Homo sapiens: one gene and its partners. The protein of the gene in region 7 purifies or fractionates together with the protein of the main gene of each other region. This does not show direct contact. Each region holds a gene or a part of one and is shown on either strand. Other genes may lie near its edges.

Region 1 (3,500 bases), on a different chromosome or scaffold from region 7:
AGAATCGCTTGAACCTGGGAGGCGGAGGTTGCAGTGAGCCGAGATCTCACCACTGCAGTCCAGCCTGGGGGACAGAACGAGACTCCATCTCAAAAAAAAAAAAAAAAAAAAAAAGTACAGCCCACCTATACAGGGCATGAATTATGAATGGAGCTTGCAGGGTGGGAAGTTGCTGTGGGTGGGTGAGTGAACGTGGAGGCCTAAAGCATTAGTGTATGTCCTGCACACTTAGTATACAACACTCAACACTCAGGCTACACTCATTTTTAAACACTTTCTTCAGTAATAAATTAACCTAAGCTTACTGTAACTTGATGTTTAAACTTTTTGCTTTTTTTAATTACACTCAGTTTAAAACACAAATACATTGTACAGCTGTACAAAAATATTTTCTTTAGAACCTCATTCTACAAGCTTTTATTTATTTATTTTTTGACATGGAGTCTCGCTCTGTTGCCCAGGCTGGAGTGCAGTGTCGCAATCTCGGCTCACTGCAAGCTCTGCCTCCCGGGTTCACGCCATTCTCCTGCCTCAGCCTCCCGAGTAACTGGGACTACAGGCACCTGCCACCACGCTCGGCTAATTTTTTGTATTTTTAGTAGAGATGGGATTTCACCATGTTAGCCAGGATGGTCTTGATCTCCTGATCTCATGATCTGCCCACCTTGGCCTCCCAAAGTGCTGGGATTACAGGCATGAGCCACCGCACCCGGCCTCTATAAGCTTTTATTTTTAAGGATTTTAAAATTTTTAAGTTGGACTTTAATTTTTTGAGACAGTATTTTTTTTTTTTTTTTTGAGATGTAGTCTTCCAGGCTGGAGAGCAGTGGCACGATCTCGGTGCACTGCCACGATCTCAGTGCACTGCAGCCTCAGCTTCCCAAGTAGCTGGGATTACAGGTGTGTGCCACCATGCCTGGCTAATTTTTTTTTTTTTTTTTTTTTGAGATGGAGTCTCGCTCTGCCACCAGGCTGGAATGCAGTGGCATGAATGTCGGCTCACTGCAACCTCCAACTCCCTGGTTCAAGCAATTCTCCTACCCCAGCCTCCCGAGTAGCTGGGATTACAGGCACACGCCACCACGCCCAGCTGATTTTTGTATTTTTAGTAGAGACGGGATTTTACCGTGTTAGCCCGGACGGTCTTGATCTCCTGACCTCGTGATCCGCCTGCCTCGGCCTCCCAAAGTGCTGGGATTACAGGCGTGAGCCACTGTACCTGGCTAATTTTTGTATTTTTAGTAGTAGAGATGGAGTTTCTTCACGTTGGCCAGGCTGGTTTTGAACTCCTGACCTCAAGTGATCCACCCACCTCAGCCTCCCAAAGTGCTGGGATTACAGGTGTGAGCCACCATGCCCGGCCAAGGATTTGAATTTTTTGCTTAAAAACTAAGACACACACTATCCTAGGCCTGCACAGGGTCAGGGTCATCCATGTCACCATCTTCGACCTCCACATCTTGTCCCACTGGAAGGTCTTCAGGGACAATAATACATTTAGAGCTGTCATCTCCTATGACGACAGTGCCTTCTTTTGGATACCTCCAAAAAGTCTTGAAGGACCTGCCTGAGGCCGTTTTACAGTTAAAAAAAATTTTTTTTTTTTTTTGATACAGAGTCTCACTCTGTTGCCCAGGCTGGAGGGCAGTGGCACCATCTCAGCTCACTGCAACCTCCACCTCCCAGGTTAAGCGATTCTCACGCCTCAGCCTCCCAAGTAGCTGGGATTACAGGCTGGCGCCACCATGCCTAGCTAATTTTTGTATTTTTAGTAGAGACGGGGTTTCACCATGTTTCCCAAGCTGGTCTGGAACTCCTGACCTCAGGGGATCTGCCTGCCTCAGCCTACCAAAGTGCTGGGATTATAGGTGTGAGCCAATGCTGTGGCTGGCCTACAGTTGACTTTTTAAATAAGTAGGAGTATATTCTAAAGTAATGATAAAAAGTATAGTAAATAATCTAATAACATATTTATTATCATTATCAAATATTAGGTACTATACATAATTGTATGTGATCTTTTTTTTTTTTTTTTTGAGATGGAGTTTCACTCTTGTCACCCAGGCTGGATGGAGTGCAATGGCACAATCTCGGCTCACCACAACCTCCACCTCCCAGTTTCAAGCGATTCTCCTGCCTCAGCCTCCCAAGTAGCTGGGATTACAGGTGCGCTGTACCTGTAGCCAAGCCTGGCTATTGTATTTTTAGTAGAGACGGAGTTTCTCCATGTTCCCCAGGCTGGTCTGGAATTCCTGACCTCAGGTGATCCGCCCGCCTCAGCCTCCCAGAGTGCTGGGATGACAGGTGGGAGCTGTCGTGCTCTACTTTTATTTCTGAGACAGGTTCTCTCTCCGTCCGCTGGGCTGGAGTGTAGATGCATGATCACAGCTCACTGCAGCCTCAACCTCCCAGGCTCAGGTGACACTTCCATCTCAGCCTCCGAAGTAGCTGGGCATGTACCACCACACACAGCTAATTTTTAAATTTTTTTGTAGAGACGGGATCTCACTATGTTGCCCAGGCTGGAGTGCAATGTCGTGATCTTGGCTCACTGCAACCTCCACCTCCCGGGTTCAAGTGATTCTCCTGCCTCAGCCTTCCAAGTAGCTGGGATTACGGGTGCTCGCCACCACGCCTGGCTAATTTTTTGTATTTTGAGTAGAGACAGAGTTTCACTATGTTGGCCAGGCTGGTCTCGAACGCCTGACCTCAGGTCATCCGCCCACCTCGGCCTCCCAAAGTACTGGGATTACAGGCGTGAACCCCCGCGCCTGGCCTGCTTGTGGGGGTTTTCACGGATGCTCTTGATCAGGCTGAAGAAACTCCTTTTATTCCTAGTTTGTTGAATGTTTTTATCATGAAAGCGTGTTGGAGGTTGTCAAATGTTTTGTGTCTATTCAGTGATCACACGGTTTTTGTCCTTTTCTCTACTGATCTGGTATGCAGGCATCCCCATCACACACTAGGCTTGGTGACTGCACTTGAGGGACTCACAGGACTTAGCCTACCATCATACTAGTGGCTGGGATTTACTACGGTGAAAAGATGCGACGCAGAATTAGTAACAGGAAGATGCATTTGGGGTGAGGGCCGGAGGAAACCAGGTACAAGCCCCCAGAGTCCCCTCCCCTGGGGTCCCCTCCCGCAGAATGTGCTGAATCCTCCAGCCTCGAGCTGTGACATGTGCAAAGTGTTCTCTACCAGGGAAGCCTGCCTGAGCCCAGGAGTCCAGGGTTTTCACTGGGGGTTGCTCATGTAGGTACGTTGTGCCTGCGTGACTGAATATGGTCACCGAAATGCCAGGCTCAGAAGAAAAGCAAGTGTTCAGCAAATATCACATGATTTGTATAGAAAAGAGTGAGCAGTTGTTATTTGGGGATAGTATTGTATCCACATAGGAGCTCTTTACCAGTCAAGTTCCCAGATGCCAGCTGGGCGTGGTGGCTCATGCCTGTAATCCCAGCACTTTAGGAGTCCGAGGCGGGTGGATCACTTGAGGT
Region 2 (3,500 bases), on a different chromosome or scaffold from region 7:
GACAACAATAGCAACACAATAACTATTACTACAGTACATCGTCAAGGCTCAGGTCAAATGTGCCTCTCTACAAAGCACACCCTGAACTTTCTATCTGGAAGAAACCATTTTCTCCTCTGAATTCCTATTTTAACTGTCATCTCTCTCAGAACACTTCTGTCCATTTTCTATTATTCACACATATATTGTCTCCCATACCAGACTTTGAGTTAACTAAAAGCAAAATCCACTTCCGATAAGTCTCTTTATCACCTGCAGTTCCTAATATGATGCCCTGCTCATAATATCTACCCAAACTTTTGTGTGAATGGGTGGATATCTGGTCATGAGCAGTACACTTCTGCCAGCACACATAGCCTCAACCTTACCACAACATCTTCCAAAATCTTAGTAGGGCAAGGTCTGGAATGAAATTCAAAGTGTTCATCCTCTGTTTTCTTCTTTGATTCTCGCTCCTGGATTCTTTTCTCAATTTCCAAATCAAAGCCAATAGGCTCGGTGGGTGGTTTCACAGGTGGTTTCTTGGGCAAGATGGGCCCACCTTCAAGTATTCTGGGATCAAGTTCACGTGCTTTGAATTTGTATCTGTAAGGTGAAAATTTAAATAACCACAAAAAAAATTTTAATAAAATGAAAACTTCACAAACAAAGTAAGCCAACCACAAAGAATAGTAATCATTAAGATTATGCTCCCATTGACTGGACAACAGAATAAAATAAATAAAAACGAAAAACAATGGGCCAGGCACGGTGGCTCATGCCCGTAATCCCAGCACTTTGGGAAGCCAAGGTGAGCAGATAATTTGAGGTCAGGAGTTCAAGACCAGCCTGGCCAACACAGTGAAACCCCATCTCTACTAAAAATACAAAAATTAGCTGGGCGTGGTGGTGCACACCTGTAATCCCAGCTACTAGGGAGGCTGAGGCAGGAGAATCTCTTGAACCCAGGAGGCGGAGGTTGCAGTGAGCTTAGAGGCACCACTGCACTCCAGCCTGAGCAACAAGAGCGAAACTCCATCTCAAAAAAAATAAATAAATAAAAAATAATAAAAGAATAAAAGAAGAAAGAATAAATCAGACAGTCCTAACATCCCTACCACTTAAGAATTGAGGCTTCACTTCACAGAAGAAGCTCCCCCTCCTCAAAAGAAGCACAAAAAGGAATGGAAGAAGGATACAGGAAATAAACTCCAATGCTACGAATCACACTAAGTTTCCATTTCCCTCCACTAATAATAGCTGTAACAATCCCTTGGGGAGTCACAAAAGGGTGGGATCTACCTAACTTAACCTTAGAGGGCATTCCTTAATTGAAATCCTAAGTAAGTTCTTCTACTGCAACCTCTGGATTAGATTTTGTGTGTGTGTGTGTGTGTGTGTGTGTGTGTGTGTGTGTGTGTATGTGTGTATGTGCAAGACAGTCTCGCTTTGTCACCCAAGCTGGAGTATATTGGCGTGATCTTGGCTCACTGAAGCATTGACCTCCTGGGTTCAGGCTGCCCCCTAGTAGGTGGGACTACAGACGCATGCCACCATGCCCAGCTAATTTTTTTTTGGTATTTGTTGTAGAGATGGGGTTTCACCATGTTGCCCAGGCTGGTCTCAAACTCCTGGACTCAAGTGATCCTCTTGCCTCGGCCTCCCAAGGTACTGGGATTACAGGTGTGAACCACCACACCCAGCCTGGATTCAATTTTTACCAGTTTATACTCCAGAACATCTCCATATTCCCACTATAGTCCTTAAATCATATAGGCAGGGGCGTAGCCTGCAGAGCCTACTACTCAAATGCCATAAATTTTTACGGAAAGAAAAATAGCAACTGTCACCCTAACAGAACTGAAAATAAAGTAGGCAGGTTCGTGGAACTCTTCCTCAGATACTGCCAGTGGGACTTACTGTTGCAATTTCTCGAGCTCCTCAGCCTCCAGCTCTGCTGTACTTTTGCAGGTCACAGCCCGTGCACGGTGTTTGGTTTGCAGTACAGGAGTCTGTGGGTCTCTGCAAATCTTGGTCACAGAAGATTTGGAGGGTAACAGGTCTGTAAACAGAGATGACAGATGTTCATCTAGATCCGCAAGACCCAGTTTACTTGTAAGTGGTGATTCACCTATGTAGCCCAGAGAGGGATAAACCAACCACAGAGTGGTGGGCCCACAACAGTCAGCTCAGCTTACATTGGTCAAACCAACCAACATTCAGTTACTTCTCCCCTATTCCTCTTTTATTGAGGGGTATGACTAAGGTAGCCTTTGGGTAAACTCTACTGTCATCTTCTGAACTGAAAATCCATCCATGTCTGACAGGTTCCTTATCACTGCACGGGCCTAGACTGACTTTCTTTTTTTTGAGACAGGGTCTCACTCTGTTGCCCAGGCTAGAGTGCAGGGGCATAAAGGCTCACTACAAATCCAACCTCCCTGGACTCAGGTGATCTTCCCACCTCAGCCTCCCAAGCAGCTGGGATTACAGGCATGCACCACCATGCCCAGCTAATTTTTATATTCTTTGTAGAGACAGGGTTTCACTATGTTGCCCAGGCTGGTCTTGAACTACTGGGCTCAAGCAATCCACCCACCTCAGCCTCCCAAAGTGCTGGGATTATAGGCGTTAAGCCACTGTGCCTGGCCAGGCCTATACTTTCTATTGACAATGCCAATTATTTTGCTTGTTATTAACACAAAAAATTTTTGCTTATTCCAGCTTTAAGATATAAGGCCTTCCTGGCCGGTCACAGTGGCTCACGCCTGTAATCCCAGCACTTTGGGAGGCCGAGGCAGGGGGATCACGAGGTCAGGAGATCGAGACCATCCTGGCTAACACGGTGAAATCCCGTCTCTATTAAAAATACAAAAAATTAACCGGGCGTGGTGGCAGGCGCCTGTAGTCTCAGCTACTCGGGAGGCTGAGGCAGGAGAATGGCATGAACCTGGAAGGCGGAGCATGCAGTGAGCCAAGTGAGCCAAATGAGCGCCACTGCACTCTGGCCTAGGCGACAGAGCGAGACTCTGTCTCAAAAAAAAAAAAAAAAAAAAAGATATAAGGCCTTCCTAAAGACCAAGTAAAGCCTGAACAGAATGGCTCAAACCTGTAATTCTAGCAATTTAGAAGGCCAAAGCAGGAGAACTGCTTGAGGCCAGGAGCTCAAGACCAGCCTGGGCAACATAATGAGACCCTGTCTCCTAAGAAAATATAAAAATTAGGTAAGCATGGTGGCATGCACCTATATATAGTCCCAATTACTTGGAAGGCTAAGGCAGGAGGATTGCTTGAGCCCAGGAGTTGGACACTGAAGTGAGCCATGATCACGCCACTGCACTCCAGCCTGGGTGACGGAGCAAGACCCTGTCTCTAAAAAGCAAAACAAGAAGGAAAATAAATAAATAAATAAATAACAAAAGAAGACCAAGTGAAAACTCCCAATTTTATGAAATCAATATAAAAGCATCAAGACCACATCTTACAGAAAATCAAATGGAGAAAGTTAAAAACTATGTTAA
Region 3 (3,500 bases), on a different chromosome or scaffold from region 7:
GTCAGTCAGCTGAGGATTATGTCATTATTTAGTCTTTGTTCTGTAGAAAGAACACAACACAAGTATGAAAATCATCACCTGAAAGGAAAGGAAATAGCTGTTGTAGTATTCCTAAAATGTTAGGAATTGTTCCTTTATTTCAATATACCCAATGTTATCTGCTTAATCATAGCTGCCCCCAAATAAAACCAAACTTACTAAGAAGGGCGATGCAGGTGCTGAATTTCTAGAGGGAAAGTGTTGTGAATTAACAAAAAATCTGATGCTCTGAAATACTAAAATTTATATTTTCCTCAAATAGAAAGAGAATTACATTGTGGTTATCAGACCCATCTCAAAATAGAATTCAACTACTTTCAATGTTATATCCTTGGATCAGTTGCTTCTATTTCCTAGGCATGACTCACTTAATCCCAGGCCCATACCTCAGAGATAAAAGAAACCAGCCTTCATGAGCTGTGTTTGCAGCCTTTTAAAAATTAAAGAAACAAACAAAAAAGTGCACCTACCCCAAAAAACTTGTCACAATCATATAAAATTTGGCAAAGTCTTCCACAGTATTTTATCGAAACTTAAAATAAGGTAATATGTTTATTTAATACACCAACAAAGAAGAAGAATCTCATAATGGAGTCCATTGTAAATAGGAGATCCGCAGCAAAAATAAAAAAAGCCATGCTGCAATTAGAAGAAATTCAAAACCGTGTAGCTAATCGTATCCTATCCAAACAGCCATTTTCAACTAACCTGACCCTATTTTATCTCTGCCCTGAATATGCGTAACAGTTCAAAAAAGGGAAAAATGATAGATTAAAATTTTTATGAACAGCCATGCTGAAAATGCAATTCCTCTGATGTAGGAAATTGGATGAGTTTAAGGGAAAAATGTGGTATTTATAAAGCTTAGTTCTCACAGTACCAACTGGCCACAAGGTAGTTTTATATCATTATACTTTTAGTTTCTGATCATTTGGATGTCATTATTTTAGATAAGAGGACATCTCAAAGGTTTCACTGAAGCTACAAATGCAAGAGTTTTAGTTTAGACTTGCAAAGCCTTTTTTTCATTTTACATTTTGTTGACTCATTGTCTCTCAAAAGCCCTATGAGAAAACTGGGCCTCAAAAAGGCAAAGAGGGTCAGTCGCAGTGGTTCATGCCTGTAATCCCAGCACTTTGGGAGGCCGAGGAAGGCAGATGACTTGAGCTTAGGAGTTCAAGGCCAGCCTGGGCAACACGGCAAAACCCTGTCTTACCAAAAAAAATTACCTGGGCATGGTGGCACATGCCTGTAGTCCCAGCTACTTGCAAGGCTGAGCTGTGAGGACTGCTTGAGCCCAGGAGGCAGAGGCTGCAGTAAGCTGAGATCAGGCCACTGCACTCCAGCCTGGGTGACAGACTAAGATTCTGTGTTTAAAAAAAAAAAAAAAAAAAAAAAAAAAAGGGCGTAGAGACCAGCCCAGTCACAGTTAAATGGCTTTTTATTTTAAGCCCAATATTCTCTTTAACATGTAAATAATCATTAGAAAAGGTTCAACCACAAGAATAATTTATATACTTTTCTATACTGAGAAGTCTAAAGTCTATATTATTGTCCTTTTTAAGAACAAAGATTTATTGAGTAAAAGCAAGAACTATTTATTTCCTATTATTGAAATATTCACAGACTAGAAAAAACACATTTTTTGCATGCTAGAGAATAGCTTCTCCAAACAGAATTCATTCTTAACATTTTATCCATAAACAGGAAAAAATGCTTGCTAATTCTTTTCCACTCCCAATTTAATATATCCAGGGTTAAATTGCTAACAATGTATGGTACAATGAGAGTGGTTTTGTCATTTAATAAAACATTTAAAAAGATTTAAAAATTAGGATTATGGGCCCAATGGGCACTTTCTCTTGTCAAATGCCTTCTATGAAGCTATGAAGGAGGAACTAATCATGTGATCTGTTCTAGGAGAGGAAGGGTCATCAGCAGTGAGGCCTGGCAGGAATCATTCTCATACGTGCTAGCTCACACAATTGGTCAGAAAGAAAATCTTAAGTGAAAAAAATAAAGGTTTCAAGCCAGTAACTTCAAACTGAATTCAAAGTGCCTGCCATCTACTACATTTGACCTATAGTAGACTTGGAAAGTTAGTGTGTGGGAACAGGAAAACGGCTTCCCCTGAAATTCAGAATTATTTTACAGAATAAAAACCGCCAAACTTTAGGCCAGGCGCAGTGGCTCATGCCTGTAATCCCAGCACTTTGGGAGGCCGAGGCGGGCGGATCATGAGGTCAGGAGATCGAAACACGGTGAAACCCCGCCTCTACTAAAAATACAAAAAATTAGCCAGGCGTGGTGGTACGCGCCTGTAGTCCCAGCTACTGGGGAAGCTGAGGCAGAAGAATCACTTGTATCCAGGAGGTGGAGGTTGCAGTGAATCGAGATCTCGCCACTGCACTCCAGCCTGGGTGACAGACCGAGACGTCTCGGGGGAAAAAAAAAGTCAAACTTTAAGGAATGTTTCCCCAAACCACACAGATATAAACTCACTGTCACAGTCAAATAAATTGTAGTTTGATTTTTGAAAACTAATAAATAAAATAGGAAATGGAATTCATATGGCTGTATGTATCAAAATTTACAATAAAGAGTTTTTGGTAAATTGTCAGGTTTTCTTAAAAAATACATATATGCATACGAGAATATTTTCTGAATGTATTGTTTTAATGCACAAACTCACAAATACAAGTCCAGAAAACACCAACATTTAGGTTCAAAAGGTCCAAAAATGATATATTATTTGATATTGCTTTTTAGGCATTTCATTAGAGAGAAGTCAAAACATTATCTTTATAAACGACTGTTATAAATTACCTCAATTCATAACTCAAGACACCAATTTTTCAAGTTAAAAATCTTTAGAAGTATTTCAATTTTTTTTTAAAGCAATCCTTATTCTAGCACCGGACAACTTAAAAGTTTATATAAGCACATAATAAAAAGTTGAATTCTTAAAATCGAAGATTTCACAAACAAAAAACAATTATTTATCTTTCTAAATTGAAATGTGATTTTATTTTACAGAAGGGCAAAAACATTCTTCAGTAAATGTCAACAATTTTTAAAGTTTAAATAGTTGCAAAGCTCTTTTAACTGACAACTTCTAAATCACTAAAAAGAAAAGTTTATAAAGTACTTACACATATTCCTCATATACTATTTACTCAATATGTTTTAAAATTCAGATTAAAAAGGGCTTACCTCAAGAATCAGTAAGTTCTTTGCCGTTTGTTAGATTCTTCTCTTGGCGAATCTGCCAGCATAACTTTAAGTCTCACCCCATTCAGAATCTTTCCATGTAGAGTGGCAATGGCATCATTAGCACTTATTCTATCGGCATACTTGGCATACCCCACATTTTTTCCTGACACAAGGTAAACTTCGATCAGGTTACCAAAACGACTGAAACAAAGTGAAAAAAATAATCAACCAAAATTGATAAATACAAC
Region 4 (3,500 bases), on a different chromosome or scaffold from region 7:
CTTATTTTCAGTGCTATGAAGTTAAATTTCCATATATGAAACACGTATGAAAAAATAAAATGAAGAAAAAGCCCCCGGCTTCTTCAACCACCCACACCTATCTCTTGCTCTATCTTAAAAGTTATTGGGAATAGAGAGGTAGATTAGTAAATGTCAAAAAATGTGAGACTAAAGTATATACTGTATGACATGATTCATTTAATGCATTAGGTGTCATGCTAATTCATAAAGACAGATGGCAAGAAAATCATTTCTTGTAGTCATTTCAAAAATCAACTCAAAAGTTTTACACATTGGAAGAAGTTTTTATAAACTTTCTGGTATAAGTAGAGGTTAATGTGAAAAACTTATATTGTTACATAAGAGAGATAAACAAGATGGGTGTATTAAATAATATTCTCTTCATTTTCACAATTATAGCAGAATGATTATTTTTAATAATTATGTATACGGAACTTACCACACCAAAGCTGTAAATATCAGATTTGGGTGTTATTTCTCCACGCAAAGCTTCTGGTGCCATATAAGCTGTTGTTCCCACAATTCTGCTAGTCATGACTGTCTGGGCAAACTTCTCAGAAGCCCGTGCAAGGCCAAAGTCAGATATTTTAGCAGTAAAAGCTTCATCCAGTAAGATATTTGCACTGAAAAAAATGTAAAGTTTGAAGAAAAAAATGTTTTTCCCACCCCAAAAAAGTCAAACAGTTCCTTAGCTAGATGTACGTATGTATGCATGTATATATGTATATGCATACATGCATATGTACATACATATTTACAGAGTGTAACGTTTTATAGTATGCATCATAAAAGCCTAAAGTTTATAGAAATAAACCTAGAATTCAGATTATAGCTAAAGAGAAGCAACTGTCCTCTTTTTTTATGTTTCTTGAGGAAAACATTTAGGAGAATAAAAATGAAATAAAACTGTCTACATTAGTAAGAGATATTTTCATTATTCCACAAATCATTTATTATAGGGTAAATTACTACAAAGTCTTCCAAGGCACCTTTATTAATTCCTTTCTTAGTATGTATCAATTCATTTCAAAACAAATTTCCAACCAAAGTATCTCAATTATGAATTTCTTTATTCTTTTGTTCTGTACTATCTGGCTTTTGAAGAGAAAAAAATATGGCCAAAATATCTCAATTAATTCATTATGTGCTTTCATACTTTAATTCAACACAATCTTATTGAGAACTCCCTATGTTGTGTAGTATTTAAGCTCACTGCTGGGCATGGCGGAGTCTTAAAATCTTGTCTGTGACAAAGGCATAAATAATTTTTTAAAACAATGGTAATATTAGGTACAAAATGCTGAGAGAACAACCATGTGCCTGGAAAAAGTAGGAAAAATTTCAAACAGAGGGTGAAAAGTGTGCTTAGTATTGAAGGATTATTAGAAGTTAATAGTTATATGAGGGAAAGAAAGGCACTCCAGGCAAATGGAGTAACAGGTACAAAGTGACAAAAACATGATATGGTATACATGGTCAACTTCAAGGAACGAGTGTCCAAGAAACATGGAGATAATTTGCATTTTATCCTGTGAGCAACAGGATACCAGCTAAAGTTTTCACAGTAGGAAACTGATGTTATTAGACTTAACTTTTAGGACCATGACCTAGTAGTGTGGTAGTGAATAGATGAGAACTGATAGGCTGGATTTAGGTTGACTACGAAGGTTTGTAACAAAGCAAATGGGAGATAATGAGGGTTTAAATGGTCATAACATGGGATAAATGGAAAGTGAAAATTTTGAGGCTCACACAACAGAATTTTGTAATTAGCATGATATAGAGAATGAGAACGTGTTCAGTTTGAGAGACAGAATGAACAGTGACTTCACTGGATCAGAAAGGAAATGTGGGAAGACTTTAGGTTGGGAAGAGCTGATGAGTTTGATTTCTAATGTTCTGACTTAAAGGCTACTGTGGGATACCCAGATGAAGTGTTTTTGGTACGGGGATACTAAAAATCCAGGATTGGAAGCTAATAATACAGATTCAAAAGACACTCACATATAAGTAGCAGTTAAAATTAACATAATATCACTCAGCAAAAACATACAGAGAGAGGCCAGGCGGGTGGCTAATGCCTGTAATCCCAGCACTTTGGGAGGCCAAGGCGGGCGGATCACCTGAGGTCGGGAGTTCAAGACCAACCTGATCAACATGGAGAAACCCCATCTCTACTAAAAATACAAAATTAGCAGAGCGTGGTGGTGGATGCCTGTAATCCAAGCTACTCAGGAGGCTGAGGCTCGAGAATCTCTTGAACCCGGGAGGCGACGGTTGCAGTGAGCCAAGACCGCGCCATCGCACTCCAGCCTGGGCAACAAGAGTGAAACTTGTCTCAAAAAAAAAAAAAAAAAGAACATACAGGGAGAAAAGAGACAATGATATAAGAACACAAGAAAGTACCAATCCATGAAGGATAGGAGATGGCGTTTCTTTTCTCATCTAGGGTCAGTTCCTCTGCTTGAGCTGCTTTCTACATTCTCAGTAACCCTACTGAACACATCATCTCATTTCTCTCTTCCATACTATCCTCTCCCTTTTAATCTGGATCCTTCCTATAGGCACATAAGCACAGCTTAATCTCTGCCAGCTTAAAAAAAGTTTCCTGAATGACTTATCTATTTCTAGCTGTCCCCTTCACTAGTAAAATGTCTTAAAAGACTTGTCTATACTCCTATCTCAGTTCTCTAGCTCTCACTCTCTCAACTACAATGTGATTTCTAAACCAACTACTACCTGGAAATGGGTTTCCATAAAGTCACCAAAGACCATGGTGATGCTAATCCAATGATTAAAGCCCTTGACTCTTTTTGACTACTCCCTCTTGGGAAACACTTTCTTTCCTCGTTTTCAGGGACTCCACACTCTCCAGGTTTTCATCTTACCCTTCTCTGTATGTGTACTTCCTTAGATTCCTTTTTGTGATCATCTCTTCTATTTGGCCATTAAGTCTTAGGGTTCCCCAAGACTTAATCTTGTGACCTTTTCTTAATCTACATCTCCCCTCAAGTGAATACAGTCACTTCAATTATCACCTGTATGCAAGTAATACACATTTATATCTTCAGCTCAGACCTCCAGCTCCAAATCTGTATATCACACTGTCTACCATCTCTACTACTACATCTTAAAAGCACCCCAAACACAACATGTACAAAAGAGAATTCACATTTTCTAACCATCTCTCTAACCCCAACCTAACCAAGTCTTTTTTCAGTCCTTTCTACATAAGTGAATCATGCCATAATCATTCCAGAATGCAAGTCTGGATGCCATTATTCCAGGAGTCATTCCTGATACTTCGCTCTTCCTGAACCCCTGCATAGCCAAGGTATCAACAAGTTTTGCCATTTTAATCTTTCTAATCTGCTCCCCTCTCTTCTTATGAACTGCCACCTATGATAGCCTACTAACTGCCTCTTCTTACAAACTGTTCTCTACACTAGAGTTAAAATCATCTTTGCAAAACTTAAATA
Region 5 (3,500 bases), on a different chromosome or scaffold from region 7:
CGCCGAGCTAATTTTTTTGTATTTTTAGTAGAGATGGTGTTTCACCACGTTGGCCAGGTTGGTCTTGAACTCCTGACCTCAAATGATCTGCCTACCTCGGCCTTCCAAAGTGCTGGCATTATAGGCATGAGCCACCGCGCCTGGCCATGAGGCTGTTTAAAGTAAAACTTTGAAAAGTGAAACTTTTGATTCATTATATGTATACACATACACGTATAACACACATCTATTCTTTTTATTTAAAAAAATAAAAAATAAAGATAAATGTAAAAAATCAACCTTTGGGAGCACAGAACATGGAAAATATATATAGGTGTCCTGGTCAAAAGTTCAAGAGGTTCCTAAACTTTCTCAGTTCACAGACCCCTCAGTATGCCAGTTATTTTTTTCATGGAACCCCTAGGCCAAAAAAATACCTAACAGTTCCATTTACTAAGTAGTTCAGTCCACAACCTAAAAAGTATTTATAGCCTACCAACTTAGTAGCAGATCGAAAAATAAATATGTATAAATTGAAATAAATATTTTTATTACTAAATTACCACAACTACTTAATAGGATGTGTGTACCTACTAGATATTACACAAGTTCTCAAATCTTGAAATCATTTTGGACACCACCACCTTCATTTACTGTTCCAAATTGATTTTTGCATAGTACTTGCTTTTTATCACAGCAAACTCCCAAAACCTAGCGTTTGGAAGACACAGTGTCATCAAAAAAAATGGAACACAATCTCTTGTGTGGTATCTCAAACTGGTAGTTTGAGTAGTGTCCTATAGATGTCAAATATCCCACAGCTATCCAATATTGCTGTTTCCATTAAAATTTCTCAAATAATGCATAGTGTCCAGGTGAGTTACTATGGTGCTCCACAGTACGGCAGGTCCTCCATAACATAGTTTCATTCAATATCATTTCTTCACAATTTTGATGAGAAAAAAATTTTGATTTCCCCACCAGGGCTACCATCTATGTGGAGCCTGCATGTTCTCCCCATGTCTGTGTGGCTTTTCTCCGTATGCTCCAGTTTCCTCCCACATCAGAGAGGTGCACGCATTAGGTGAACTGACATGAATTGGCATGTCTATATGGTCCCAGTCTGAGTGAATGTGGGTGGGTGGGTGGGTGTGTGTGTGTCTGTAAATGCTACCTGCAATGGAATGGCAGCCTATCTTGTGCCCTACTTGCCGGGACAGGCTCCAGCCACCTGCCATCCTGAACTGAAATAAGTGGGTAATTATCTTGTTTTTAGTATTTCTTAAATGTATGCATAGGACCCATTTATTTCAATGTTTAATATTAGAGGTGTTTGGGGTCTTAGAAGTTGCAGTTTCCAAGTACTTATGGACAACATTAAGTGAGGATTTACTTCAGTGCACAGTTTAGGAATACTGGATTTAAGAAACACTGATCTAGCCTACGGGTTTACTTTGTAAAGTAAGAAATAAGACTTAAGGCTACAAAGCTAGGAGAAAAACAAATATATTTATTATAGATTTTCCTAAATTTCAACCTTCTGCCAACAAAAGTTTTTTTGTTTGTTTGTCTGTTTTGAGCCAGAGTCTTCCTCTGTCACCTAGGCTGGAGTGCAGTGGTGCAATCTTGGCTCACTGCAACCTCTGCCACTCAGGTTCAAGCAATTCTCCTGCCTCAGCTTCCCCAGCAGCTGGGATTATAGGAGCCTGCCACCATGCCCAGCTAGTTTTTTACTTTTAGTAGAGATGGGGTTTCCTTATGTTGGCCAGGCTGGTCTGAAGCTCCTAATCTCAGGTGATCTGCCCGCCTCAGCCTCCCAAAGTGCTGGGATTATAGGCATGAGACACCGCACCCAGCCAACAAAAGTTTTGTTTGTTTTGAGATGGAGTCTTGCTCTGTTGCCCAGGCTGGAGTGCAGTGGCAGTCTTGGCTCACTGCAACCTCCACCTCCCTGGTTCAAGCAATTCTCCTGCCTTGGCCTCCCCAGTAGCTGGGATTACAGGCCTGCCACCACGCCTTGCTAGTTTTCGTATTTTTAGTAGAGATGGGTTTCGCCTTGTTGGCCAGGCCGGTCTCGAACTCCTGACCTCAAGTGACCCACTTGCCTCGGCCTCTCTAAGAGCTGGGATTACAGGCGTGAGCCACCAAGTCCCAGCCCTTCCATCAACAAATGTTTTGACACAGGATCTAATTATGAGACACTCTGTTGATGAAATGTGTAGATCTCTAAAAATCACATTCAAAAATACATTTATATCACTATTTAATAGAAGAAAAAATTTACTTCCTTTTTTTAGAAAAAAGTTTCAAAAATTATAAAAGTGATTCTTACAATAAAACCATACAAAAATGTCTAAAGTAAAAAAGAAAAGTCATCCACTCCCTCAGGAATAACATGTTTAATGTCTATCCTTATAGACCTTTTTCTATTCACATGCAAAATGAAAACAAAACTACATTTGTCTATGTGTTTTTTAAATAAATCATATTCTATAGTATAGTGCAACTTATTTTTTCACTTAATTTTATATCATGAACATTCTTCCAAGTCAATACATAATTGTAACAGCAAACACTTATGTGGCGCTTATTAATGCTTATTTAGGGCCTAACTGTTAACTCATTTAATTCTCATGGTACCCCTGTAACATGAGAACTACTAGTATATCCAATTTATAGTTGACTTTAAGTAATTCGCCAAGAGTCACAGCTAGAAAGTAGTGCAGTTAGGTTTTGAATCCAGAAGGTCCACCGCATGGTTCCAGGAGCTGAAGGATATGCTCAGCTGCTGCTCATGAAGTAAATATAGATACCCTGAAACCTGTTAACAACTGCACAGTAATTCACAGCATAAAAATACTAGACTTTTAACTATTAGCCTACCAACAGACATTTAGGACATTTTTAAATTATTTATAAATGTTATTGACATCTTGAAATAATGCTAATATAAACATTCTTATACAATTCCTATGCTGTTAAAATTTATGTAACATAAATTTTAAGCAGGAAATGATTCTATCAAACAATATATATACTTTTAATCTTGATAGGGAATGCCAAATTTCCTTCCAGAAGGTTGCTCCAATGGTATCAATTTATAGTCCCAACTACAGAGGAAAGGGTTCAGATTCATTTTTAAGTTAACACTTTGGATTCATGAAAAAAAAGGCCCATTTTGAGTTTTTAATTAATACTGAATAGACTGCCAAGTTGATCACAATTATGTTCTGATTTTATAATTATCTGACATATTAAACAAATGTAGACTTAGCAGCTGTGCAATGGATTCTTCTCCCAGTTATGAAATCAACTATGCATGAGATATCGCCCCTATACAACCTTCTGTTTTCTTATGTATAAAATATGGGAATTGGACTAGCTGGCCTTGAAGAATTTAAACTCCCAATACTGAGATTAAGAAGTGACTTAAAGTTATTACAAGGCTATAATTATAGTACTAGTATAACAGGTTAGGGTCTTAAAGTTTATATTTTCTTTAAATTACCGTAACCTGTTGC
Region 6 (3,500 bases), on a different chromosome or scaffold from region 7:
ACCACGCCCAGCTAATTTTTTGTATTTTTAGTAGAGACGGGGTTTCACCGTGTTAGCCAGGATGGTCTCGATCTCCTGACCTCGTGATCCGCCTGCCTCGGCCTCCCAAAGTGCTGGGTTTACAGGCGTGAGCCACTGCACCCGGCCTCACAAATCTTTCTTAAACTACAATACTGGCTACCATTCCTATTAAAACAGCCAGCAGAGGCAGCTCCCGGGCAGCGTGCGTGCAGTGAGCAACCCTGCTGCTGCCTGCTCGGCTCCCACAGCCCATCACTCGGCTCCCACAGCGCCCGCACCGCGGCCCATGACTGCCTGAACACAGACGCCGCCAGCCAAGATGTCAACCCGAATTCTCCTCACAAAGGCCTGCCGTCCAACTCCATGACCAATGTCCCTGTTGACACAGGTGGGGCTGCCCAGGCTACTGCTGTTGAGGGTCTGACAGAGGCTGAGGAGGAAGAGCTCAGGGCCCAGCTACCAAGACGGATGAGGAAACTGTCACTCTACACCAGTGCTGGCAGCCAAGGAGGGGGACTGTGGAGAGCTTGAGAGGAGGCTGGGCCTCTCTGCCTTGGAGGCTGAAACGGAACCCTCTCTAACGCCTATGTGAAGACTTCTGAGAAATGTGGAAGTGGAATGAGAAAGTGGCCCACCCGGATCTCTGCAAGACTCAGGAAATGCTCCCACAGCAAGACAGAAGACCTCAACCAAGACAGAGACCTCAGCGGCCCTGTCCATGGTGGGCTCTGCCATCAGTAGGAAGCTCGGAGACGTAAGGAAATTTGCAACTTTCAAGTCGTTTGAAGACCAAGTTGGGCCCATGAAGTCTAAGGTCGTGGGTGACAGAGAACAGCAAGGACAATCTCCCTTCCTCAGCAGGGAGGGGCGACGAGCCCGTCGGATCCCGCACCTCTCTAAGCCTGTGGTCGCTTACGCTCAGCTGCAGAGCACACACACACACCCTCAGCATCACAGCCGGAGCTCTGAGCAACAAAGCGGCCAGCCAGGACGCACACGCAGAGCCGGCTTTGAGAATAGTCCTGCCCATCCACAAGGAGACGTGGCTACCGCATCCACATGAATTTCAACAGTTGTGTACATAGTTATATACTAAAGTTTGTAGGTGAAACAGATAACTGTGCTGTCCTTCCTAGGGGTACAGGAAGTGGACAGGGCGGAGGATTTGAAATACTGAGCCAAAGCCCAGGCTCCCTTTAAGAATCACGTTAGTGGCCAGGCACGGTGGCTCACGCCCGTAATCCCAGCACTCTGGGAGGCCAAGGCGGGCCGATCACGAGGTCAGGAGATGGAGACCATCCTGGCTAACACGGTGAAACCCCATCTCTACTAAAAATACAAAAAAATTAGCCAGGCATGGTGGCGGGTGCCTGTAGTCCCAGCTACTCGGGAGGCTGAGGCAGGAGAATCAGTTGAACCCAGGAGGAGGAGCTTGCAGTGAGCCGAGATTGTGCCACTGCACTCCCACCTGGGAGACAGAGCAAGACTCTGTCTCAAAAAAAAAAAAAAAAAAAGAATCAGGTTAGCCCATCAGAATGTTGAAGCATTGAAGAGTCCTACGCATAAGTGGCATTTTTGACCTCCTCCTTCCCTAACTCACAGAAGGAATGCAATCACCCAGAAAGCCCTACCTGTTCCATGAGTTTTTATCTTGAAATGCTAAACAAGAAGTGTCCATTTCCTGCCCACAGAAAGTAAACTGAATATCAACAACTGCCCAATTGTTGTACTAATCTAGCTTTAATGAAAAGCAAATTCATTATTTTTTTTTAATGCAGTGGACTTTTCAAAAATCGAAATTAGGCAAAGCAGCTTTAGCCTCCTAGTGAGAGAATATTATTTCTTTGGACTCAAGCTGAAATTCAAGCCTCACATTACCTCATGCTTTATTTATCATAAACATATAAATGAGGGTTGCTCAATGGCTGTGAGTACTGTGTGGGATTTTACACCTGGCCTGTGTGACTGCCTGTTCCAGTTGGGGTGTTGGTTTCACTAACACGCTCCATCCCAGTGTATAAAACTTGCTTCTCTTCTCAAGCAGGGCAGCTCCCCTGGCTCCCTACTCTGCCCTGAAGGACTTTTGGGCTCCCAGGGGTGGGAGGGGCTAAGAGAAGGAAAAGCCTGTCTTTAGCACCCTTTAGAAGAGCTGTGCCCGCTTCCCAGTGCTGCCTTGCATGGGCCTGGCCCGGGGGGCACTCATCAGTGACTCCAACCCGCCTGCTGGCTGCACTTCAGATGAAATGACCCCACAGGTCAGGTGGAGGGTGGGGCATGGGCATCGGCCAGGATTGCTGTCACCTTTTCTCCGGAGCTACCAAGATCGTTCCTGTTTCTAAGCAGTCGCACCCCAGCAGCCTCTCTCTCTCCACAGCCCTGCGTGTCAGGCAGCCTCTCTCTCACACCACAGCCCTGCGTGTCAGGCAGCATCTCTCTCTCTCCACAGCCCTGCGTGTCAGGCAGCCTCTCTCTCTCTCCACAGCCCTGCGTGTCAGGCAGCCTCTCTCTCTCTCCACAGCCCTGCGTGTCAGGCAGCCTCTCTCTCTCTCCACAGCCCTGCGTGTCAGGCAGCATGGTTTGCAGGGGCAGCTCTGTGCCTCAGTGGCTCTTGGTAGGACACTGAGGGCCTGCCTGTGGTGTGCACAGCTCTGCCACTCCCGGGAGGGGAAGTGCTGCTCAGCTCAAGGTGTCCTGTTCGGCAGAGGAAATGTCCTCTGACAACCGTGTCCCCAGACAGTTCAGACACCCTCGGGGACAGCATCGCACACACGACGACAATGCAGGGGCCAGGGAACCCCAGCGCTCGGTGCCCTTTGTCCAGTGGGATGTGGTAAGAAGGCAGGTTGCAGGGGTGTAATTGATGTATCTTTTCCCCAAAGTTATTATACTAATGAGTAACTTGTCGATAAAGCATTCTTTTGGGGAAAGACTTTTAACCAATTAAATAAAGAAAGCGTGAGTGGAGGGTGTGCACGCACCATCTTGTCGGGGGTGTTGAGGTACAGGTCCACCACGTAACGGATACGCTTCTGCAGCATGGCCTCGTCGTCATCAGGGTACATCAGCCTCATGAAGTCAGGGTTCTCCAGGACGTCCAGAGTCAGCTGGCAGATGGAAGCCTGGTTCTCTTTGGCAGCAACATGCATCACGTTGTACCTGCACCCTTCCTGAAAGAGAACCGCATGCTCTGAGCTTCCTATCTGATGTGTGGACACGCCCTGTGCGAGTGCTGCGATGGAACGGCCGGGACCGCACACCTGCCCGAGGGAACCGCCGAGACCTACCTGCACGATAGTGGGGTTGTCTCCTGAGCCTATCAGATACCGGGGGTTGCTCCAGATAAGGTCAGAAAAGGTGTCCTCCTCTCCCTTCTCCACAGCTTTCCGAAGCTTGGCGGTGAGGTCCTGCGTGCGGGGATTTTTGTAACTGTTCGCTCGCTCTTTGTTGACTGTTTCTGATTCCGACAAGCACAAACCATC
Region 7 (3,500 bases):
CAAAAAAAAACTGTTAGAACTAATAAGTGAATTCAGCAAAGTAGCTGGATAGAAAGTCAACAAGCAAAATCCAGCGACGTTTCTTTTTTCTTTTTTTTTTTTTTTGAGACAGAGTCTCACTCTGTTGCCCAGGCTGGAGTACAGTGGCACGATCTTGGCTCACCACAACCTCCACCTTCCAGGTTCAAGCGATTCTCCTGCCTCAGCCTCCTAAGTAGCTGGGACTACAGGCACGCGCCACGATGCATGGCTAATTTTTGTATTTTTAGTAGAGACAGGGTTTCACTATGTTGGCCAGGCTGGCCTTGAACTCCTGATCTCGTGATCAGGAGTTGGGAGGCCCACCTTGCCTCCCAAAGTGCTGGGATAACAGGTGAGAGCCACTGCGTCCAGCCTCCAGTTACATTTTTATACACTAAGAATGAACAATCTAAAAAGGAAATTACAAAAACAACTCAATTTAAAATAGCACCAAAAAGAATAAAATATTAGTAATTAATTTAACCAAGGAGGTGAAAGACTTATAAAATGAAAACTATAAAACACTGCTGAGGCCAGGCGCAGTGGCTCACGCCTATAATCCCAGCACTTTGGGAGGCCAAGGTGGGTGGATCACCTGAGGTCAAGAGTTCGTGACCAGCCTGACCAACATGGTGAAACTTTGTCTCTAGTAAAAATACAAAAATTAGCTGGTCGTGGTGCCACATACCTGTAATCCCAGCTACTCAGGAGGCTGAGGCAGGAGAATCACTTGAACTCGGGAGGTGGAGGTTGCAATGAGCTAAGATTGTGCCACTGCACTCCAGCCTGGACAACAAGAGCGAAACTCCATCTCAAAACAAAAACAAACAAAAAAAAACTGCTGGCAGAAATTAAGGGGCATAAATAAATGGAAACACATCCCTTGTTCATGAACTGAAAGACTTAATATTGTTAAGATGCCAATACTACCCAAAGTGATCTATAGATTCAATGTAATCCCTATTAAAATCCCAATGACGTGTTTTACAAAAATAGAAAAATTCATCCTCAAATTCATATGGAATCCCAAGGGAGTCCAGATAGCCAAAACAATCTTGAAAAAGAACAAAGCTGGAGGACTCACACTTCCTGATTTCAAAACTTACTACAAAGCTGCAATAATCAAAACCATGTGGTACTGACATAAAGACAGACTTATAGACCAATGGAACATAACAGCACTTAGAAATAAGCCCTCTTACATATGAGCAAATGATTTTTAATAAGGTTGCCAAGACCATTCAATCAGAAAAAGACAAGCTTTTCACCAAATGGTGCTGGGAAACTAAATATCCATATGCAAAAGAATGAGGTTGGACCCTTATCTAACACAATATACAAATATTAACTCAAAATGGATCAAAAATGTATGTAAGACCTAAAGCTATAAAACTCTTAGAAGAAAACATAAGGCAAAAGCTTCACAACAATGGATTTGGCAATGATTTCTTGGATATAACACCAAAGATACAGGGAACAAAAACAAAAAGACAAACTGGACTTCATAAAAATTTAAAATGTTTGTGTATCAAAAGACAGCATCCCTGTGATCCCAGCTACCTGGAAGGCTGAGGTAGGAGGACTATTTGAGTCCAGGAGTTCACAACAAGTCTGGGCAATAAAGCAAGATACTATATTTAAAGGGGAGAAAAAAAAAATAGCCCAGGCACGGGCTCACGCCTGTAATCCCAGTACTTTGGGAGGCCAGGGTGGACGGATCACCTGAGATCAGGAGATCAAGACCAGCCTGACCAACATGGTGAAACCCCATCTCTACTAAAAATACAAAATTAGCCAGGCGTGGTGGCGCATGCCTGTAATCCCAGCTACTCTAGAGGCTGAGGCAGGAAAATGGCTTGAACCCAGGAGGCGGAGGTTGCAGTAAGCCAAGATCGTACCAATGCACTCCAGCCTAGGCAACGAGAGCAAAATTCCGTCTCAAAAAACAAACAAACAAACAAACAAACAAACCCAAGGGAAAAAAAAAGACTTTATCTTCCTTTTCTCCATCATAGTGCAAGATCAAGGTAAAAAAAAGAGAACTCTGGCCAGATGAGGGCTCACACTCATAATCCCAGCACTTTGGGAGGCCAAAATGGGTGGATCACTTGAGGCCAGTAGTTCAAGACCAGCCTGGCCAACAAGGCGAAACCCCATCTCTACTAAAAATACAAAAAATTAGCCAGGCATGGTGGTGCACACCTGTAATCCCAGATACTTGGGAGGCTGAAGCATAAGAATTGCTTGAACCTGACAGGCAGAGGTTACAGTGAGCCGAGACTGTGCCACTGCACTCCAGCCTGGGTGACAGAACGATTTTCTGTCTCAACATCTGTATGGAGGAGACTGGAGATGACTGACCCCAGCAGCCAAGGTGTTGGAGCAGCTCATAGGCCAGACCCCTGTGTTCTCCAAAGTCAAATACATTGTCAGATCCTTTGGCATCAGGAGAAGTGAAGATTGCCACCCACTGCACAAAGGGCCAAAGCAGAAGAAACCCTGAAGAAAGGTCTAAAGATGCAGGAGTGTGAATCAAGAAAGAACAACTTCTCAGATACTGGAAACTTTGGTTTGGAGATCCAGGAACACACAGATTTGGGTATCAAATGTGACCCATGCATTGGTATCTACAGCCTGGACTTCTGTATGGTGCTGGGTAGGCCTGGTTTCAGCACTGCAGACACATAGCACAGAACAGGCTGCACTGGGGCCAAACACAGAATCAACAAAGAGGCCATGCACTGGTTCCAAAAAGAAAAAGAAAGGAAAAGACCACACGGTATCAATGAGTAAAAAGGCAAACCACAGTAATGGGGAAAAAATTTTTGCCGTTTATGTATCTGAAAATATCCAAAATATATAGAAAATTCCTAAAACTCAACAACAAAAAAGCAAACCAATTTAAAAATGGGCAAAGGACTTAAACAGACATTTCTCCAAAGATACACAAAATGGCCAGTAAACACATGAAAAGATGCTCAACATCATTAATCATTAGGGAAATACAAATCAAAACTACAATGAGATAGCACCTCACACCCAATGGATGGCTACTTGAAAAAAAAAAAAGAAACAGAAAATAAACGTTGGTGAGGATGTGGAGAAATTGGAACCCTTATGCACTGTTGGTAGGAATGTAAAATGGTCCAGCCACTGTGGAAAATAGTTTGTCGGTTCCTCAAAAACTTTAAAATAGAATTATCATATGATCCAGCAATTACAATTCTGGGTAAATACCCAAAAGAATTGAAAACCCATATTCATAGCAACATTATTCATAATAGCTAAAAGTAAGAAGTAACTCAAGGCCGGGCTCCGTAGCTCACGCCTGTAATCCCGGCTCTTAGGGAGGCCAAGGCGGGCAGATCACAAGGTCAGGAGATGGAGACCATCCTGGCTAATATGGTGAAACCCCGTCTCTACTAAAAATACAAAAAATTAGCCGGGAGAGATGGCAGGCGCCTGTAGTCCCAGCTCCT

Evidence for each region.
Region 1: the proteins of KIF11 (region 7) and FLYWCH1 purify together in Homo sapiens (affinity purification with mass spectrometry; one large-scale study listed by BioGRID and IntAct). This does not show direct contact.
Region 2: the proteins of KIF11 (region 7) and TPX2 purify together in Homo sapiens (affinity purification with western blotting, with the first as the bait; one study listed by BioGRID). This does not show direct contact.
Region 3: the proteins of KIF11 (region 7) and RBM45 purify together in Homo sapiens (affinity purification with mass spectrometry; one large-scale study listed by BioGRID and IntAct). This does not show direct contact.
Region 4: the proteins of KIF11 (region 7) and IRAK4 purify together in Homo sapiens (affinity purification with mass spectrometry; one large-scale study listed by BioGRID and IntAct). This does not show direct contact.
Region 5: the proteins of KIF11 (region 7) and CEP350 purify together in Homo sapiens (affinity purification with mass spectrometry; one large-scale study listed by BioGRID and IntAct). This does not show direct contact.
Region 6: the proteins of KIF11 (region 7) and ANKLE2 purify together in Homo sapiens (affinity purification with mass spectrometry; one large-scale study listed by BioGRID and IntAct). This does not show direct contact.

What each region holds. Positions count from the first base shown.
Region 1 is NC_000016.10:2,942,931-2,946,430, reverse strand, and holds part of FLYWCH1 (FLYWCH-type zinc finger-containing protein 1), read right to left. Parts: intron 3,105-3,500; exon of another isoform or gene 2,947-3,104; intron 1-2,946. UniProt on the Homo sapiens protein: Transcription cofactor. Negatively regulates transcription activation by catenin beta-1 CTNNB1, perhaps acting by competing with TCF4 for CTNNB1 binding. May play a role in DNA-damage response signaling.
Region 2 is NC_000020.11:31,780,790-31,784,289, reverse strand, and holds part of TPX2 (targeting protein for Xklp2), read right to left. Parts: intron 2,042-3,500; coding exon 1,900-2,041; intron 586-1,899; coding exon 369-585; intron 1-368. UniProt on the Homo sapiens protein: Spindle assembly factor required for normal assembly of mitotic spindles. Required for normal assembly of microtubules during apoptosis. Required for chromatin and/or kinetochore dependent microtubule nucleation.
Region 3 is NC_000002.12:178,125,937-178,129,436, reverse strand, and holds part of RBM45 (RNA-binding protein 45), read right to left. Parts: intron 3,454-3,500; coding exon 3,261-3,453; 3' UTR 3,253-3,260; intron 79-3,252; exon of another isoform or gene 41-78; 3' UTR 1-40. UniProt on the Homo sapiens protein: RNA-binding protein with binding specificity for poly(C). May play an important role in neural development.
Region 4 is NC_000012.12:43,779,451-43,782,950, reverse strand, and holds part of IRAK4 (interleukin-1 receptor-associated kinase 4), read right to left. Parts: intron 645-3,500; coding exon 461-644; intron 1-460.
Region 5 is NC_000001.11:179,957,810-179,961,309, reverse strand, and holds part of CEP350 (centrosome-associated protein 350), read right to left. Parts: intron 1-3,500. UniProt on the Homo sapiens protein: Plays an essential role in centriole growth by stabilizing a procentriolar seed composed of at least, SASS6 and CPAP. Required for anchoring microtubules to the centrosomes and for the integrity of the microtubule network.
Region 6 is NC_000012.12:132,744,833-132,748,332, forward strand, and holds part of ANKLE2 (ankyrin repeat and LEM domain-containing protein 2), read right to left. Parts: intron 3,500-3,500; coding exon 3,306-3,499; intron 3,189-3,305; coding exon 3,000-3,188; intron 1-2,999. UniProt on the Homo sapiens protein: Involved in mitotic nuclear envelope reassembly by promoting dephosphorylation of BAF/BANF1 during mitotic exit.
Region 7 is NC_000010.11:92,596,130-92,599,629, reverse strand, and holds part of KIF11 (kinesin-like protein KIF11), read right to left. Parts: intron 2,772-3,500; exon of another isoform or gene 2,341-2,771; intron 1-2,340. UniProt on the Homo sapiens protein: Motor protein required for establishing a bipolar spindle and thus contributing to chromosome congression during mitosis. Required in non-mitotic cells for transport of secretory proteins from the Golgi complex to the cell surface.